2 separate regions of the Homo sapiens genome follow, and region 1 is linked to region 2. Evidence: fine-mapped expression QTL. A gene starts in region 2. The other region holds a variant in brackets. All regions are shown on one strand. Distances are from middle to middle. Region 1 overlaps IL12RB2 (interleukin 12 receptor subunit beta 2). Region 2 holds the start of IL12RB2 (interleukin 12 receptor subunit beta 2).

Region 1 (8,000 bases), 23 kb after region 2:
TTAAGTAAAGAAGAGGTTTCACCATGTTGGCCAAGCTAGTCTCAAACTCCTAACTTCAAGTGATCTGCCCACCTCAGCCTCCCAAATTGTTGGGATTACAGGCGTGAGCCACCGCATCCAGCGAAAAGAGACTTTTTTAAAGGAAAAGTTTATTATTCTATTAAAACTATATGAGCTAGATATCATTATACCCATTTTATAGATTCAACTGAAGCTCTGACTTGTCCAAGGTCACACAGTGGGCATTCCTGTGCCTATGTCTATGGTGGATGCTAAGGACAAAAAAGATATTTATTTAATCAATAACAGATTTTTTCAGTGTAGACAATAGCTAGGACTTCTGTAGTATACTCATTTTATCTAACCTAAAGGAAATATGTATCTACACGTGGGTCTGGGTATTAGGGTAAAATGGGATGACTGAATAGCTGAGTATTTCTCTTACCTCCATTTTGTCCAAAAAATTCCTAGTTTGGGTCCTTTCACCATAAAATAGCTTTATTTAAAAATACACACCTTACAATAGAAGGGACCATGCTTGCTTTGTACATCTTTGTATTTCCACATCTAGCACTGTGCTTGGCTCGTGGGAGGTACTCAATGCCTATGTACACAAAAGAATTAATTTATAAATGTCCATAAAGTGCTCCAAGAGACAATGCAGAAATTAGATTTAGATGGTATAGCCCGGGAGGACATGACTGAGGCAACTGGGTGTAAGTGTCTTGACAGCAAATATCAGGTGAAGAAAGCAAATAAGTCTCTCATTTTTAAAGGTTTCTAATATTTGAATGGGCATCACTCTAAAAGAAATTAATTTATTATTACCAGGGGTAATGGAGCTAGCACTGGATGTTCACCTGTCAGGGAAAATGGTAGAATATGGAGTAAAAGGCTTGGACTTGAGTTACAGCTGAGCTGGAGCCTTGAATCTGCCACTTCATAATTTTATGATCTTGGGCCAGATATTTCACCTCTCTCAGTTTCCTCTCTGAAAAAAAATATAATAATAGTATCTACCTCATGGGGTGCTACGCTGTCTAATTCAGAAAAACTGCACATAGCACTGGGCTAGGCATATAGTATTTGATCCATATTCACTACTATTATTACTGTTTCTAGGAGAAATTTACACCTTAATGGCAAACTGGGACTTGAATGGAATCTAAAATAGCTTCTAGTTTACCTGGGTTTACGGCATGTGGGGGACGTATTGTCATGTTGATGGCAGATAATAACAATTCGGTTGAAATATCACCTGTGTGATATATAAGGTTTTGTCTTTTCTTTTTAAAGTTGCTCCAGAACAGCCTCAAAATTTATCCTGCATACAGAAGGGAGAACAGGGGACTGTGGCCTGCACCTGGGAAAGAGGACGAGACACCCACTTATACACTGAGTATACTCTACAGTGAGTGAGAGGCTGTATTTTTGCAGCTGTTTTGTAGATCTTCTCTTAAATGACATTTAGAAATATCTGTTTTCTTTATTTATTTTTATTTTATTTTATTTATTTATTTATTTATTTATTTATTTATTTTGAGACGGAATCTCACTCTGTCACCAGGCTAGAGTGCAGTGGCGCAATCTCGGCTCACTGCAACCTCTGCTTCCTGGGTTCAAGTGATTCTCCTGCCTCAGCCTCCTGAGTGGCTGGGATTACAGGCACCCACCACCACGCCCAGCTAATTTTTGTATTTTTAGCAGAGACGGGGTTTCACCATGTTGGCCAGGATGGTCTCGATCTCTTGACCTCGTGATCCACCCGCCTCAGCCTCCCAAAGTGCTGGGATTACAGGTGTGAGCCACGGTGCCCGGCCTATCTGTTTTATTTTTACCAGAAAGGAGAAGCAATAGATACTTCTAGACAATTAGATACTTTTTAAAGAGTTTCTATGTTTATAGTTAAAACTGGTTCATTCATCTACAGTATGAGAGACCGAATGTCTTGGGTCTGAGTTCTAACTCAGAGTTCTCTTCAGTGCATCCAAGATCCAAGTTATAGCTGTTCTTTCCCACTCTAGTAGGGTTAAACTGGCTGCATAAGATCGCTTCTCTTTTCTGCAGCTGTAGGCTCTTGGGGTCATGATACATAAATAAACTCTTCCTTGTGGTAGTTTCCCATTCGCTTGGATAAGTTTCTTTTTAAAGCACCATTGGCTGACCTAAGAGTCCATGAGAAGAGAGAGTCTGGGAGATTCTGTTCCTTGAAGTAGATTTCATGATCCCATTAAAGATCCAGCTGATTTGTGCTATTCCTGAGTGAGGAGGAGATGGAGGAAAGGAGGGGTTCTGTAGTACATTTACTTTTTCTAACCTAAAGGAAACATCTATTGACACGCGGGTCTCAGTATTAGGGTAAAATAGCCCAGGATTCTACTCTGGCCACTGCTGTACTAGGAACTGACAATTCTGTGCCACAGATGTCAAGGTGGCCACAGTGCTTAGGATAATGTTTGGAACTGCCCTGGGGAGCCAAGATGACAAGCAGGGTTTGGGGAATTTCAGCAGCGTAGGCTTGGTTACCTATCTACATGAATGTGGAAGAACATCTCAGTTCTACCAAAAAAGGGAGTTGGGTGAAGTATAGTCTTACATGACCATATAGTACAAATATTCCCGGGGTGTATCCCCTAGTCATAAGATTGACCTTTAAAAATTGTCTAGAATTCTAAATATTTAAACATTTTGTTCTTTTCTACTGTAAGTAGAAAGTAGCACATAAAACATGTTGCTACACGTGGTTGTGTTTTGTTTACAGGCTAAGTGGACCAAAAAATTTAACCTGGCAGAAGCAATGTAAAGACATTTATTGTGACTATTTGGACTTTGGAATCAACCTCACCCCTGAATCACCTGAATCCAATTTCACAGCCAAGGTTACTGCTGTCAATAGTCTTGGAAGCTCCTCTTCACTTCCATCCACATTCACATTCTTGGACATAGGTACATTTTATTTCACTGTTTCATTGGTACTTTATAATTATTTTTAAAATCACTCAAATCTTTTTTATATGGTTGTTTCAAGAAAGACAGAGATTGATGGAAATTGGCCAACAGGCATAAGCAAAAGATAGAAGTTACTTTGATGCAAGTAAAAGGGTGCATTATTCTGAGCTATCTAAAGATGGCTATACAAAGTGGGATGTTCAACATTATTCTCTCTATTGAAGAAATTAGCCCCTGGATTCAAATCCCATGAAAGAACCAGCTACTAATGATACCACCTGACTGAGGAGAGGGTCCTGTGAGGTCATTCAAGATGCTCAGTGCAAGCCCTTCTTGGAGGAGGTGTCCTTTCGCCCCCATGGCTACTCCCATTGTTGTGAGATAGGCTACATGTGGGCCTGCTAGGCTAGAGCAGCGAGGTACAAACTATAAATAAAATTTCTCAAGTCACAGATGCATCTTGCTCTGAGAATACTCACCTCCATCCCTGGAGTGAGCCAGTACATTTCTGAGCAAATGTAATCGGTCCAGTTGAATCAGAGGCCAATCTCAAGCATTCCAAGTTCTGACCATCCAGGCAGAACTGGGCTGCCTGAAGTTCCAACCTCACACTATGTGCTTCTCGCCTCTCTTTCCATGGCACTTCTCTGCATACATATTGCTAACGATGAGTCTGATCATTGGCATTTACTATACACTTTTCCACCATATTTCTTCTCAGGCTTCCTCCCATTTCTTTCATAGACCGTTCATCTCTAGGCTACCTTCTCGCCCCCTTGTTCTTTTCCTCTGTCCCTTTGCTATGAATTTTCCTACGAACATTTCTTCTCCTCCTGAGGCAGTCATCACTAGCCGTCTCTGGCTTCTCAGTCATTGGAACTCTTGGGTTTGGCACATTGGTTTTTGAAAAACCACTGGACTAAGTGTAGTTGAAACTTACCACTAATGTTGGTAGTAGTTATTTGGTGAAAATGAGATTTGATTAAGGGGGATTATTTTAAAGATTCAGAAGTGAATCCAGCTTTTAAAAAAGTTCTTTCTTAAAGCCTGGAACTTTTCTCTTGTATATTTTACCAAATTTGATGGTTGTGCATCTCAGAACTGAGTTTTGTCAAACTCTTTATAGCTCATGCCAGTACATAAGACAATTGCTGATCACAGATCCTGAACCACACTTTTTTGTTTGTCCTGGTTACTAGTGAGGCCTCTTCCTCCGTGGGACATTAGAATCAAATTTCAAAAGGCTTC[T/C]GTGAGCAGATGTACCCTTTATTGGAGAGATGAGGGACTGGTACTGCTTAATCGACTCAGATATCGGCCCAGTAACAGCAGGCTCTGGAATATGGTAATTATCTTTAGAGTGAAGGAAAAAACACTGAAGCATTCTTAATATTGCTGCGCAGACCTCTGTCTTTTCATACAGCAAAAAATAGAGTTTAAGAATATTTATCCCAAAAGTACACACGAGAGAATTATCAGAAAGTCATGTATGCCTCTGTTGATTAAGAAATATCTTGAATTTTGATCTCTGATTCTGAAATTTTTAAAGCTTTTGTAAACCAATATTAATTTTCTATAGTTTATTTCTAACAGAGGATTCATTTCTCCTTATTATTTACCCTGTCCTGTTATTATTTTTTAGCATTTAAAAAAGATATTGAAAAGAGAAATATTAAGAAATGTCCACAGAGAGTTATATAGAATTTAATATTCCAAAGAAAAGGTCTACAATTTAATATAATATTAGGCATTGCATGTTTTAAAATAAAAGGTATAGGATTATGATTCTTTCCGGGATTGTTGTAAAATTCAATGGCTTATAATAACAAAGGATCAGTCCCACAGATAGCTGATATTCAAGAGAGTATAACTAATTAAAGGGTTTTTTTAAAAAAAAAAAAAGCCAGTGCTATGTTTGTGTTAAAACATTCATCACATCCTAATTGTAATCAAATAAAAAATAATCTCTAGTGTAGAAACTTTGTAGTTTTCAATCTTATTTTTCAGCTGGTTTCAGGATTCCCCTCGAGAACCTACATAGATGGGTTCTTAGTACCCAGAGATTTTGTTTTATTTTTAATGAGATGCTATCATTTCAGATTAATATCATATCTATTCGGTAAGACAGTCACTGATATTTCTTCTCATTTAATGGTAGGTCTGAAAAACAAATAAGATCAAATAGCCTGGGTTTTTTTTTTTTCATTTTATGTTAAAATTCCTTAAATTAGCAATCTAGTATTAATAGGCACTTTAAAAAAATGTCTGTTTCAAGGTTAATGTTACAAAGGCCAAAGGAAGACATGATTTGCTGGATCTGAAACCATTTACAGAATATGAATTTCAGATTTCCTCTAAGCTACATCTTTATAAGGGAAGTTGGAGTGATTGGAGTGAATCATTGAGAGCACAAACACCAGAAGAAGGTATATGTCCAAAATATACATACCTATCGGGGAGCAATAAAGGGGAGAGAGGGGGGAAGATGTAATGATTTCCTTGGAATAGAATCTTTAAACTACTGGTGCTGAATCAAAAAGCATGACTGCATTAGTTAACAAGTTAATTTTTATATTAACTTAAGTGCTGAAACTGTTCAAGGAAATATGTTTGTGTTGCAAGGAAATTTTTAACATTGGGTAAGTTCTACTCCTGTTTGCTATCAGTCATGTTGGTTATAATGCTTGGTTATAACTTATCTCTCTTACTATCTCAGTAACTTATTTCACAGAGCTATAACCAGTAATTAATCTCATTTCTTGTTAAAGCTTCATATGTTTTATATTTTTGATTCTATGAAAAGTAATGTGGCTCAATAAGCCATATGGAAAGCTTGAAAGAAAGTAGGCTCTGGAGACACATATTTCAAAATAAAATTTAGCATCCAGCAATCCTCTCTTGTCCAAATATTATAACACTGTACTTCAAGCCTTTGATATTTACTGCACAAATGAGAACCACCTGGCCACCCATAACTATGAAAAGGATATCAAATGTGTTTTTCAGTCTGATGAATTTTTCTTTTTTAGTAATTATTGGGAAGGGAATGTTATTGAAGTATAAGAAAATATTTTATTGAAGCAAAAATGCCTATGTAAACTTTATGCCAATATTAAATCTTTGGAGACACAAGAAATAGCCATCTGAATATTAGTTTTTAAAAGCACTCATTTAGGCCGGCATGGTCGCTCAGGCCTGTAATCCCAGCACATTGGGAGGCTGAGGTGGGCAGATCACGAGGTCAGGAGTTCGAGACCAGCCTGGCCAGCATGGTGAAATCCCATCTCTACCAAAAAGACAAGAAATTAGCCAAGCATCGTGGTGCGTGCCTGTAATCCCAGCCATTCGGGAGGCTAAGGCAGGAGAATCACTTGAACCCAGGAGGCAAAGGTTGCAATGAGCCAAGATTGTGCCACTGCAATCCAGCCTGGGCAACAGATCGAGACTGCATCTCATAAATAAATAAATAAATAAATAAATGCACTCATTTAGTGATATAGTAGAGAGTCTTTCATAATTTATATAAATTTGACTCAGAGAAAAACTTTTTGGCATATAATCCATTGTTCATTATCTGGAGCTTTTGTAACATTAACGTGCAAAATCTAAATTCTTATTTGTGAAATTTATGGATATGTGTGCATGTAAACTAGCCTCATAATTAAGTTGCATTTATTTTCTGTGAGCTACTAATGGCTTTTGATAACTGATGATCCTTAGCAATCATACATCAATGACATTCAAGGAACGGAAGGGCCTTTAGCAGAATATAATACCTAATATATGATTCATAGAATAATCTTATATTCTTCCTTACTTCTTGTATTAATTGCATTTTTTTTTTTTTTTGAGACAGAGTCTTGCTCTGTCACCCAGGCTGGAGTGCAGTGGCACAATCTCAGCTCAGTGCAACCTCTGCCTCCTGTGTTCCAGTGATTCTCCTGCCTCAGCCTCCCAAGTAGCAGGGATTACATGCATGCGCCACCATGCCCGGCTAATTTTTGTTATTTTCAGTAGAGACAGGTTTCACCATGTTGGCCAGGCTGGTCTCGAACTCTTGACCTCAGGTGATCCACCTGCCTCGGCCTCCCAAAGTGCTGGGATTACAGAATATATTTTAAAAATTGTCTAAAAGTGAATTTATCCAACAAATGATAATTTATTACCACTCATTTTATAATAAAATCTCTTAATGTTGAACCACTTGCCCTCTGGTTGTTACTTTTATAATCCAGAGCTTACTCATAATATCGTTTTATTATATATAGTCAAAGTAATTTTTTTAAAGACTATCTCATGAATTAGATTTTGTTTATATATGTGGTACAGATAAAACTTCTGAAAATGGGCTATATTTTATATCCAAGTTCAAGGTAGTAAGTAGTCTGAAAAATATTTAAGTTATATCACATTAAGCTAAACTATAAACTAGGGAAACTCTGGGCTTGTGAATTCTTGTCATTCTTACTCACATATGATAATGACCTAGTTAGAGATGTGTGAAAAGGTTTTTCTTTTCTTTTTTAAAAAGTGTTTGTCTTTTGAATTAAAATTCCTTCAAGGCAGCACAGTAACTTTCTTATTTCCTATAAAATAAACCACCATCATAACAATGAGTATAGCAACTCATTATGGTTATGAACTCATGGATGATTATGAATTGAACCTAGGAAGCTGGCTTATTCAGTCACTGAAGGTATTCATAAAGAGAGAAACCCATACTCTGAGATACACCACCTTTACCAAGCTCTGTTGGCTTCCTTTCTGTCTCTGAATCTCCCTTTTCTATGTTTGATTTTTCTGTGGGTTGTTGTAGGTCTTTTTTCTCTTACTCTAGGCTGCTTGGTTTTCACCCCTTACCCGCTGTTTCTGTCATCAGTTTCTTTATGAAACACCAACTGATGTAAACGTAAAAGGTGTGAATTTTTTTTAACACGTCTTCCTTTTAACCCTTTCAATGTGTACTCATATGTAACTTGGCATTTAAAAAAAATTAATAGTAAGCTTTTTTTTTTTTTTTTTTAGGTACTCTCTAAAACTGTGAATGACTCTAC
Region 2 (13,195 bases):
CTTAGGCTTTGCAGGTCATGCAACATTCACAATCTCAAGGGTTCAGTAGAAAAAAGCTACTAGATGGGCAAAGAAGCACAAATAATAAGACTCATAACTAGGAGAAAAGTCAGCAATAGAAACAGACCCAGAAACAACAGAGATAACAGAAATAGCAGACAAGGATTTTACAACTATTATAAAAATCTCAAGGATTTAAAGAGAAAAACTAATAATAAGAGAAACTGAAACTATAAAAAATAAATGGAATTTCCAGAGCTGAAAAATACTTTAATATCTTACTTATGTAAAAAACTAATTGGATGGATTTCACAGATTTGACACTGCAGAAGAAAAAGCAATGAACTTGGAGATATAGCAATCAGCAAACTGAAGCAGAGAAAAAAAGGACTGAAAAAAAAGTGAATAGAGCCTCAGTGACCTGTAGCACAGTATCAAACACACCAAAATTGTGTAATTAGAATCTAGCGATGGTAGGCAGAAGAAACAACTGAAGAAATAAATCTGAAAAGTTTTCCAAATTTGGCAAAAACTACAAAACCACAGATCCAAGAAGCTCAATAAATACTAAGCAGAATAAACACAAAGGAAACCACACCAAGGCACATCATAATATAATAGTTGAAAGTCCATTATAAGGAGATCTGAAAGGCATTAAGAGAAAAAAAATTACAGGAATGCAAGATTAGACTTAACACTGACTTCTCAACAGAAACGATGCAAGCCAGAAAACTATGAAATAATATGTTTAATATGCTGGGAGGAGGAGAAGTAAACCTAGAATTTTACATACAGTAAAAAAAATTCTTCAAAAATGAAGGCAAAATAAAACAATTTTTAAGAACACAAAAGCTAAGAAAGTTTGTCAAGAGCAGACCTGTCCTATAGGAAATATTAAAATAAGTTCTTTAGGCTGAAGGGAAATGATACCGGCTGGAAACTTTGATCTATACAAAGGAATAAATAGCACTTGCAATTGTAAATATATGAGGAAATATAGAAAATTTTGGGTTTTATATTTTTTAATTTTTTAAAAGATAACTAAGTAAAGCAAAAATAGTAATAATGTATCATGGGGCTTAAAACATAAATGAAAGTAAAATGTACAATCAAATAGTACAAAAGATATAAGGATAGAAGCATACTGTTGTAAAGTTTTTGTATTATACATAAACTGGCCTACTATTTGAAGGTAGACTGTGATAGATGAATAATAATACATATTTTTAAACTATCAGACATATGAGAAGATGTTTGCAGTCAAAGATACACAGTGTAAGGCAATGAAATATCATTTTTTACATGTTAGATTGATAGATTGATAATTACAGAAGATTTATAGCATTCACTATTAGTGATAATGTGGCATGCTAGTGGAAGTATGAATTACTATAATTTGGATAGTAATGTGGCATAATCCATTAAAGAGAAAAAGCTCATATCCTTTGATTCAACAAGCTACATGTGAGATTATGTTACCCACAAATAAAAGCACCATATATTTGTACAAGTATATGTGTAAGAATATTTTTATTTTGGTGAATATGCTGCATTTTGGGGGAGACAAGGGGGCAGGTGGGAATTAGAAACCTGAAGACCTGTAAATAAGAGAATGGTTGACTAAATCTTAGTACATGCATGGTATGGAATACTTGTAGCTATTGAAAAAAAAAATGAGGCCAGGCACGGTGGCTCATGCCTGTAATCCCAGCACTTTTGGGAGGCCGAGGCTCTACTAAAAATACAAAATACAAAAATTAGCAGGGTGTGGTGGCACATGCCTGTAGTCCCAGCTACTTGAGAGCTGAGGCAGGAGAATCATTTGAACCCAGGAGGCGGAGGCTGCAGTGAGCTGAGATCGTGCCACTGCACTCCAGCCTGGGCAACAGAGTGAGACTCTGTCTAAAAAAAAAAAAAAAAAAAAAAAAAGAGAGAGAGGAAAAAAGAAAAAAAATGAGAGCGCTACTACGTGCATTATGGAATGAAGTTTGTGTCATGTGGTAAAAGGAAAACGAAAGATAGATGGATGGACAGATAGGGAAATAGAATAGCTCAATTTGTTTAAACCTAGAATATATTTTCTGTATGGCTTAAATATAAAAGAAAAACCTAAAACGCTTTTATACGTCTATAAAGGCATGAAGAAAAATGTGGAAAGATTCTCGTAAAACTATTATTTGGGAAGGAGAGACTGGAGGGGAAAGGAAATATTATTAACATTTGATACTACTCTGCAGTGTTTGATTTGTAGAAAAGGATACTTAATTGAGATTCTTCCTGCCTCTTTAGCAGAGGTCCTACAGGCCAAAATAAAAAAACTAATGCATTCACCACTGAAGACAGTGGTACTTTGGACCAGTGACTTCTGGTGTGTCACATGCTTCTCTGTTTCCTAAGCTGAGCATTCATTGTCCCTGTTCCACCATTTTATATCCTTGGAGCGGGGCAGGGCGAGGTGGGAGGTGCAGGTAACCTGGGTTTTTTACTTGTTTGTTTATAGGCTGTGGACCCAGAGGAGGCATATCTCACTAGGTAGCCACCACTGCTCATTTTTCAGAGAGCTTGGATCTCAGCTGGATGCCATGACTGGACAGGACTTTGGGTTGTCTCATTTGGGAAATCAGAGTATTTTCTATGTATGAGAAGCATGGAAAAAAAGGACATTTGAAGCCAGAAGAGTGGAATGTAGAAAAGAATCTTAATGATTATACATCCACATTTCAGAGTACTTCTCATAGGGCTTCTGTTGATGTACTCTACAACAAACCAAAAACAAACAAACAACAACGACAACAAAAATGAGGAACATATGTGTGGTTTTATGTGGGAATGTTTGTGAGAAATTTGCCTTTTATGCAAATCACTCTCCTTTTTATAAGAACTTGCCAAAGTTTTGCACCACCAAAAGTTCTGGCTCTGATGATCAGGTAACCAGCCATGACATGATGGAATCTGTGAATCCTGTAACATATGTTTAGATTTAGCTGCTAAGAATAGCAGAGCCAGTTTGTGAATAAAGTTTATGTTGTGTAGGACCCTGCAGCTATCACAGCTTTAAATTTACCTCATGTCTCACTTTACTCTTTAACCTTTATGTTCATTTAACAAGGCATCCAGCAATCTAAAGACCTCTCAAAAACGCACTGCTGCTCTCCAAGACATGGCAATTTCCATGTGGTTTGTTCATCTTTTTTTTTTTTTTTTTTGGACAGAGTCTTGCTCTGTTGCCCAGGCTGGAGTGCAATGGTGCCATCTTGGCTCACTGCAACCTCTGACTCCCGGGTTCAAGCCATTCTCCTGCCTCAGCCTCCTGAGTAGCTGGGATTACAGGTGAGTGCCACCATGCCTGGCTAAGTTTTGTATGTTCAACAGAGATGGGATTTCTCCATTTTGGCCAGGCTGGTCTTGAACTCCTGACCTCAGGTGATCCACCTGCTTCAGCCTCCCAAAATGCTGAGATTATATGTATGAGCCACTGAGCCTGGCCAGTTTGTTCCTCTATAAACAATGTTTGTGCTTGTTAAATGTCAGTTGTGGAGAAGGTATAAGTCTACATTTTAAGAATTATGGAGATTATTCATAATCTGAGAATCTGGTATTGCACTATTTTAATTTTATATAAACTTTTTCAATACATAACACTACAAATATATTCAGGAGTTATGTTGCTGTCCTATAAGTTTAATACTTTGGAGAGATGAGTAAAACTAACAAAGTAATAACTTTTAGAAATGAAACTTTTACAAAATGAAGCAGTTAAGGTTGAACAGTTAATCTTAGATTCTGAGTTTTCTCATTATAAGTAAAAGTTTAAAATGATGTTAAAACCGTCTTACCAAGTTTAACGAGTGCCAGCATTCATTTGATGCCCTAAATGACTATGTTAGCAACCACCTCCTAGTATTTATCCTGACAAGTGACACTTTAGGAAAAGCACATCTCAGTTATTCATAGAATAGTGTGATTACGTATTTTCAGGGTGTTTGGTATCAGCAATGAACCAAATTAGACATTTAAAGTAATGGAACTATACCAGAAATGGAAACTGAACTAGTATTTCCTAGAAAAGACTTTGTCACTGTCACTGTGGTTATCCACTTAATTGAGCTTTTGATTTACAAGTACATTCATTTACCTAACAGCTACACAGAAGACCATATCATACCCATAGACTTAAAAATGATTACATTAACAATCACAGTTGACATTTTGGGTTGTATATTAGGCTCTTGCTTCATCAGGCATCGTCTACCATCTAGGGTTTATTCTTTAGAAAGCACAGAAGCAAGTTTGTCTTTGTTGTTATTTTTGTTTTCATTGTTATTTTTGTTTTTGTTTTTTTCTCTAACTAGACAGGCAACCACTGACAAAAGCCATGCCTGTATTAGTGAAACTCCCAGATATTAATAGGAGGAGAAGGCAGAAAAAAGAAGTGGGGAAATAGAAAGGCCTCTACAGATGGTGATTTCATACAGAAAGGTTACCGACTTGCTAAGAAAAATTATATTTAATTTTCCAACTAATTTTTAACTGTCGAAAAGTGTGAAGATTGAACAACACCTACAATCCCGTTGAACTGGCCAAAAAGAATGGGATCTCTCCAGAACAAGTCAGTTCAACTCAGTAAATACTTATTGACTACCTGCCCTGTACCACTCAGTGTGCCAGATGCTGAAGATGAGGGATCCTTGCGTGCATAGAGTTTATAATCCAGGGAGCATGCAGGATAAGAGAACCACTGTTATCAATGGCAATCAGTGCAAGTCTTCACTTGATAATGTAAGTCTAAGTTAAACAATATACTGATGGACCTAGAGCATGATAATTTCTCAAATAATACTTATGTAAGAGTTGTCATCTTCTGACTTTTTTTTTCTTGCATCTAGGGAAAAGAAGAGAATAAAGAAGATTATCATTGCTACCTGCATCTTACTGTATTCTCATAATTTGTTGTGCTTGCTTAACAACCAGATTCAAGTTCTTTCCTCAACAGCTCTCATCTGTTCCCTCAAAGAATATGCCTTAGATGCATTTGAGACACCATTTTGTGTCTGACTTCTGCAATTTTGTAAGATGCTGCCATTAGAAGTTAATAGAGCAGTGGTCTTTCAACATTTTAGATGGTATACTCCTTCAGAAAAAAAAAAAAAGCATTTTTGAGAAACATCCCCAACATATGTTTGGTTGTTTTTTTATTTCCTTGAAAAACATATGTATGCCGGGCGCGGTGGCTCACGCCTGTAATCCCAGCACTTTGGGAGGCTGAGGTGGGCAGATCACGAGGTCAGGAGTTTGAGACCAGCCTGGCCAATATGGTGAAACCCCATCTCTACTATAAATACAAAAATTAGCCGGGCATGGTGGCGCGTGCCTGTAGTCCCAGCTACTCAGGAGGCTGAGGCAGGAGAATCACTTGAACCCGGGAGGTGGAGGTTGCAGTGAGCTGAAATTGTGCCACTGTACTCTAGCCGGGGCAACAGAGTGAGACGCTGTTTCAAAAAAAAAAAAACAGAAAAACATATGTATATTTATATGTGTGTATATACACACACACACATATGCACACACAAATATATAAATTAAATTTTTAAATGAGATAGAGTAAAATGCATTTTTGAAATTATTGATTTATTAACAAAACTAAAAGCCTTCCTTCTCACTAAAAAGTGTTGAAAAATCCATGAATTATGCAAGATTGTTATAACATTTGGCTATCATAATCTTATTCTTGATATCAATCAGTTTTTAAAGTAATGAGAAGCTGCTGCATTTTTATATTTTTTAACAAATGGATTTAAAATCCACTGAACTGCTCAATTAAAAGATTGAAACAAAATAGCAAATTGTTTCCGAGTTTTTAAAAGCATTTTCTGTGATGACAATCATAAAATCTTCAGTAAGAAAAACACACAATAATGGGAACACTTCGAAATATTTGTTTTCAAATCGTCTCTTCATAACAACGTATCACTTGGTGTGAAAATTACCTTGAAGAAACAACAAATAAACCTCTGGGGTTTTTTGTTCTTCAAAAAGATCTATTAGATAACATGTACTGAGAGCCATATATCAATACAGAAAAGATCAGCAAATTTAGGATATTTGGGGTTTTTTTGTAAAAATAAAGAAAATAACTCACTTTAAGACAACTTTTAAAATCTTTGTTACAAATGATTTCTACAATTATGTATCATCTCATTACAAAGTAATATTAAGATTCTAGATTCTACGATTTAAAAGATTTTAGTAAAATTATTCATGTAGATAAATTACTAAAGCATGTAAACTACAGTATGTCACAATCCCATAAAGACAATCTACTGTACATTGTTGATTCCAAGATGTACATTTTTCATATTTAACATCTCAAACATTGAGAGCGGTTTTAAGGTAATGCCCAGAAGCGTGGTATGCAGTTGTCCACTTCTGCGGGCTCAGCAAACCTGTACTGGGCTCAGTGGACTAGAAGAAAACTCCAGAGACAACGGGGTGGGGGAGGGGGGGGGACTTAAAAAAAAATTCGATAGATAATATACATATGTTTAAAATCTAAATTTTATTTAGAGATATCTAAATAAAATCTCTAAACTAAATAAAATTTTAGTTTAAAAGATTCTAAATGTTGAGAAAGCATTGTTATTGTTTACCTGGCAGTTCTTTTTATTTCTTACTAGCGCATAAATAATGGTATATCTTATAATTAAGGAAGTCTTAGATTTAAAGAAATCTAAGCTGACGGGTGCAGAGGCTCAGGCCTGTATTCCCTGCACTTTGGGAAGCCAAGGCGGGAGGATTGCTTGAGGCCAGAAGTTTGAGACCAGCCTGGGTAACAGAGTGAGAGTCTGTCTTTACAGGTTTAAATACAGTTTTTTTCTAAGTAATATTGTCATAAATATTATGTCATGAATATTATGCAGAGCTGCCGACCCCTCTGTACTCTGGGCAGTTTTCCCTCTTGCCTGAGAACACCACTTATAACACGGGACCTATACGGGAGTGGTGACACGCCATCTGTTCAAGTTTAACTTTTTTCTCATTTTTTAGACAGCAAATACAAATGGAAGTTCCAGTATGTTCTGCCCGCACTCCAGTGGGCGGTCTTGTGCACAGCCCACTTGGGAGGCCTCGGCGCTCAGGTGTGGTAAGAGCTGGGCGGTGCAGAGCACAGAGAAAGGACATCTGCGAGGAAAGTTCCCTGATGGCTGTCAACAAAGTGCCACGTCTCTATGGCTGTGAACGCTGAGCACACGATTTTATCGCGCCTATCATATCTTGGTGCATAAACGCACCTCACCTCGGTCAACCCTTGCTCCGTCTTATGAGACAGGCTTTATTATCCGCATTTTATATGAGGGGAAACTGACGGTGGAGAGAGAATTATCTTGCTCAAGGCGACACAGCAGAGCCCACAGGTGGCAGAATCCCACCCGAGCCCGCTTCGACCCGCGGGGTGGAAACCACGGGCGCCCGCCCGGCTGCGCTTCCAGAGCTGAACTGAGAAGCGAGTCCTCTCCGCCCTGCGGCCACCGCCCAGCCCCGACCCCCGCCCCGGCCCGATCCTCACTCGCCGCCAGCTCCCCGCGCCCACCCCGGAGTTGGTGGCGCAGAGGCGGGAGGCGGAGGCGGGAGGGCGGGCGCTGGCACCGGGAACGCCCGAGCGCCGGCAGAGAGCGCGGAGAGCGCGACACGTGCGGCCCAGAGCACCGGGGCCACCCGGTCCCCGCAGGCCCGGGACCGCGCCCGCTGGCAGGCGACACGTGGTGAGTGACCAGTGACTCGGGGTCGGGGACAGAGAGAGCCCCAGGATCCCGGACCAGCGGGGTGTCTGCGTGCCCGGGATTCCGTGTCTCGCGTCTCCCGAGGGGGCTTCGGCGACGGCTTCTCTCTTTATATATATATATGTATATATATATTTTTAAAGTCTTCCAATACGATCCGAAATGGCTTCTCTTCATCACAGTCCTAACGCCCTGGGCACAGATGTTCACTTGGAGGTACTGGGTGGTGGTTTGGCTGGATGGAGGGGAGGGAGCGCGCGGACTGAGCCTCCAAGGTACTCTCTGGGCCGGGGCACAGAGTGGTGGGCTCAAACGGAAGGGAGGGGACGGCGACTGGAAAAGGGCAGAGGGCACCCCTGAGGGTCCAGCCTTGGTTCAGGCCCACAGACGTGGCTCCCGTTGCTTGAAAATGTATCAAATGTGAGTAAGATATTGGGGGGGGCCTTCCGTAGTCCCGGATGAGGGTGAACTAACCTTGTCTCAGCAGTCTTTCCTGTGGCCTCTGGACTGACCCCGAGTCCCTGCCTGGCCAGTTACTAGCAAGATGCTCTGGTGCAAGCAAATTGGCCAGCCTCAGTTTTCTCTTCTGTGAAATGCCCCTTCCTTTGTGAACTATGAGGCCCTCCTCATCTCCCTAGGACACACTAAATATCAGTGTCAGCATTGTACGGGATTATGTATCTGTACCATTAGATCCAGGTCTTACAAATAGTAACCTAAAAGCATACAAATAGACCTTGTCTAAGAACAGGGTCCCGGCACGGTGGCTCACGCCTGTAATCCCAGCATTTTGGGAGGCCAAGGTGGGCAGATCACTTGAGGTCAGGAGTTCAAGACCAGCCTGGCCAACATGGTGAAACCCTGTCTCTATTAAAAATACGAAAATTAGCTGGGCATGATGACGCACACCTGTAATCCCAGCTACTCGGGAGACTGAGGCAGGAGAATTGCTTGAACCCGGGAGACAGAGGTTACAGTGAGCCAAGATGGGGCCACTGCACTCCAACCTGGGCAACAGAGCGAGACTCTGTCTTAAAAATAAATACATACATACATATACATATATATATATATACACACACACACATACACATATATATATAAAGAATAAAGCTAAATTAGTCCTTTTTTCCCCATTTTTAAAACTCTAGATAATTGTTATAATCTGCTATGTGTGTGCTCTGTGTAGATGAACATCTTTGTTGAGCACCTACTATGTATTTGGTTTTTGGATATATATTATCTAATTCCTTAAAAACATGGTGAAATTGTTATTAGTATTCCCATTTTACAGATGTGGAAACTTACATGTTTCACACAGTTAGAGAGTTACAGGTTTCTGGCTCAAAACTGTGTTCCTTCTGTTTCCACCTCTCTGGCTCAGAACCTTATAACCACCTCCACTTGAACAAACAAACGTTGGATTCTCATTTTCCATTAATAGGAATGGTACAGTGCCCTATTTCTCTGTCCAACACATAACTAAAAGGACCTTAGTGGCTAAGAGCTAACACTTTCCTTCCCTATTTTAATGTGAAATCCTCAATACATTACACTATCTGTTAGGCACAACAGCCTCCAGAAAAGTTTGCAATATGCTCTTTTCCATATGTCATGCCTCTTGAATGTCATGTTCATTACATAGGCTGATAAATTCCCAAACTTTGACAAACGGAATCTTTTCTGTATTAGAATGAGTTTTAGTGTGAAAAAAAATTCGAAAGCACACATGTAATTTTTAAGGTAGAAGAATCCGCCAAGTACAGTAGGTATTGGGCATCATTTCTCAGTTGTGGACTTATTTTTGTATTGCTGCACCTGCTTTGTTCTCTACCAAATTATTTGTCATCTTTGTAATTACGCTCACAGCACTGCTGTCAACTCCTACAAATAAATTTGTGCAGAATGGCGGGACACGGTGTCTCATACCTGTAATCCCAGCACTTTGGGAGGCCGAGGTGGGGGGATCACCTGAGGTCAGGAGTTTGAGACTAGCCTGACCAACATGGCGAAACCCTGTCTCTACTGAAAACACAAAAATTAGCGGGGCATGGTGGCACACACCATGTGGCATGGTAATCCCAGCTACTCGGGAGGTTGAGACAGGAGAATCGATTGAACCCGGGAGGCAGAGGTTGCAGTGAGCAGAGATCACGCCACTGCACTCCAGCCTGGGCGACAAGAATGAAACTTCATCTCAAAAAAAAAAAAAAAAAAAAAAAAAGCCAAATCCCAAAGGAAGTCTTATACAATTTCCTTTGCCCTTGGAAGTTTCTAGTGTTCTTCGCTAGTGTAACAGTGGTTTGTTTTTGTTTTTGTTTTCCAAATAAGTATTGAACATGTACATTATGGTCAGTGCATTTGCTGGACTTAGACTTAGTGAATATAAAGAAATGTAAGGCCCAGTTCATGACCTACGAAGTCAAAATTGTTTGGGAAAATTTTGAGAATACTTAATATGTCTTAAATGATAGGTGGCATGAAGTTAGGAGGTATGGAATCTAGTTTTAATCAAATCAGTCTTTCAGTGTTAAATCAGATGAATGGGCAAAGAGAGGAGTCAAAAGCAAGGCCATCTAACTTAATTCTCGTAGTGTCACTGAAAAGAAGTAATACTGCCTTTTTTCTTATAATAATAGCAGGTAACATTGATTGAGCTCTTGCTATATACCAGGTACTCTGCTAACAGCTTGTCATTTAACCCTCCCAACAATCCTGTGAGATAGGTGCTGGTTTTTTGTTTGTTTGTTTTTTGTTTTTGAGACGGAGTCTTGCTGTCGCCAGGCTGGAGTGCAGTGGTGCGATCTTGGCTCACTGCAACCTCTGCCTCCCGGGTTCAGGTGATTCTCCTGCCTCAGCCTCCCAAATAGCTGGGATTACAGGCGCACACCAGTATGCCCAGCTAATTTTTGTATTTTTAGTACAGACGGAGTTTCACCATGTTGGTTAGGATGGTCTCGATCTCTTGACCTCGTGATCTGCCCGCCTCAGCCTCCCAAAGTGCTAGGATTACAGGTGTGAGTCACCACGTCCGTCCAGTAGGTGCTGTTTGTATTCCCTTTTTACAGATGAAGGAACTTAGGCTGAGTGGTCAAGTGATTTGTCACAGGCCATATAGCTGGAATTATCCGAGCCAAGACTTAGGTGTCCTGGGCGGATCCACTGCTCTTTTCATTACTACTACAGTTGCTCAGGAGGCTCTTCTGGGAGCTTGGACTGAGGTGATGAGCGTAAACATGGTTCAATGCCTCTTGGAGGTAGTAGCTTTGTGGGTTTAACATGGGAGCCCTGAGGCATGCTGAGAATAAATGAGAGGGGTAAGCCTGTTCCTGCAGAATTTAAACCGATAGAAGAGGGAAAGCAGTTAGACTAACAGAGCATCAAGCTTGGATTTTTATTTCTCAGGTGCTCATGGAGAAGGGAAGCATAGAATGTAATTCGAATCCAATTCTGGATTTATGTGTGGTTTTTCTGGGTTATCTTGGTCAACTTACAGATTTTTCTATCTGTAGAATAGGATACTAATCATTACTTTATGTATTTGACCAAATATTAACAACTAAATTATATGCTTTGCACAGTGATAAACTACTAAGTAAATGCCTACAAAAGATTGTTAAAATTAGAATCTTAATTAACCTCTATTTTGCAATGATATGCAGGAAAAGCAACACATTAAGTAAAATATCAGGAGATACTGAGATGGAGGGTTGTTAGTGTAGAGACTTCAGCTGAATTCTTAATTTATATGAGAAACCTGGGGAAACATTGTGGCATGGTGATCACTACCCTTAGTTTTTTAATTCCCCTCCCAAGTGTGCCTCCAATTATCTTAAGATAATTGTGAAATTCTTAGAAAATTCTCAAAACAATGCAATTATCTTAATATGTTAATGCCTTGTAGTACTTTATGAAAATACTCAGTGGTTGCTTACAAGGTGAAGCAAAACTTGGCCAGGACTTTGCAATACCCAAGATCCAAAGATAAACCTCCTGCCATTGTCCACAAACAGAGACTTCCAGATTGAGGATGTCAAAGAAAAAACCTTTCCAATACACTAAGGAAGAAAAGTTAGTGAAAGAGGTTTAGTTTTCTCAATAAAGGTCAATTGCTATTTTTAAAATAAGGAAAGGAGGCTTTGAAGTATGAAGTTACCTGCCATGGTGACAGAGGCAGAAATGGAGGAACCAAGGATGGTGCCCGGGGCCTCTTTCCAGCACATCATCCTTCCCAATAGAAGACAGCTTATTTTATCGATAGGCCTAGCAGGATACAGAGAGTGAATCAGAGAAGGCTGGAGTTTCCGAAGCTTTATTGAACACTTGCCATGAAAGTTTTAGGCTTATGGGAGCTATTCAAAGAAAGAAAAGAGGTCATGTAGTTTATTTGAAAGTGTCTTGTTTCTCCAAGACTCCATTCGTATCTTGTTTCTTTCTTTCTTTTTACTGTTATATTGGAGAAATGCTTGTTCAATCTATAGGATAAAATAGTTCTCAGTACAGATGATTGAGGGGTTGGGGTGGGATAAATTCATTTCAACTCTGATTTGTTTACGCACAACATTTCAGGAGTCTATTATGTCAAATGGGATGTATCTAAAATGGAAATAAAGACAAACAGAATTGACAGAAACAACATTCCAGAAAAAATAGGAAAAGAAGAGAGAAAAGAATAAAGGAAGTTAAGAAAAAAAAAAAGCCATAAAGAGGGAAAGGAGAAAACACATTGAATTTAAAAAAAAAAAAAAAGGAACAAAAATTCGGAAGTCTCCTGAATTTGAGCAAGAAAAGAAAGTTCCTGTACTTGGGTGAAATTAAAGAGGAACCATAGGACAGCAAATGCTTACCAATGAAATTAGAGAAAATTCCAGGCAGCCTCGTCAGCTGCACAAAAAGGAAAACAAGTGTGTGTGTTAAATTTGGCTCATGTAAACAGTGCTTGGACTATTGAATAGAAAGAAGAAAAAGTAGAAAAGGTTATGCATTTTACTTTCCTTCCCCTTCAAGCCATTTACCATGACATTATGAATGGGGCCGGTTTGATGATGGGGCCTGATAGACGGGCTTTTGCCCATGTAATGGCTTGTTACATTCTTTCACCAAATGGTAGACTTGGAATGAAAAACAGTTCATTTTCATGACCATAACTCAGGAAATTTCATGAAGAAGAGAAGGTTAGCTAATTGGTAACTTGATTTGATTATCCTTTTCCATCACCATAGTGGAATAGCATCAGATACGGTTACATATTGTATGTGCGCTGAGTTTTGTTGTTTCATCCTCTTTTGAGGGAGGTGGGCCTCAGAAGTAATGAGTCAACCTTCTGAAGAGTAAAGCATTAGGCATTATAAATGCTTTACTAGATAGATATCATAAAGATTGTATGTAAGGTGCCTAGCATCGTGCCTGAAACATAG

What was found. PIP is the estimated chance that this variant, and not a neighbour inherited with it, causes the effect.
Region 1: its variant is fine-mapped to the expression of IL12RB2 in blood mononuclear cells (TOPMed, PIP 0.94).

Annotation. Positions count from the first base shown.
Region 1 is chr1:67,325,439-67,333,438 of GRCh38, forward strand. IL12RB2 (interleukin 12 receptor subunit beta 2) reads left to right here. Exons shown (of 17, transcript NM_001374259.2): 5 at 1,297-1,411; 6 at 2,762-2,946; 7 at 4,149-4,291; 8 at 5,222-5,372. Among named protein-coding and RNA genes, the nearest start is that of IL12RB2, 22 kb to the left of the region's middle. The variant T/C (reference allele first, on the strand shown) is at 4,198.
Region 2 is chr1:67,300,208-67,313,402 of GRCh38, forward strand. It overlaps IL12RB2 (interleukin 12 receptor subunit beta 2), which reads left to right and starts at 7,666. Exons shown (of 17, transcript NM_001374259.2): 1 at 7,666-7,760. RefSeq lists enhancers at 6,889-6,988, 7,019-7,068 and a silencer at 7,529-7,718.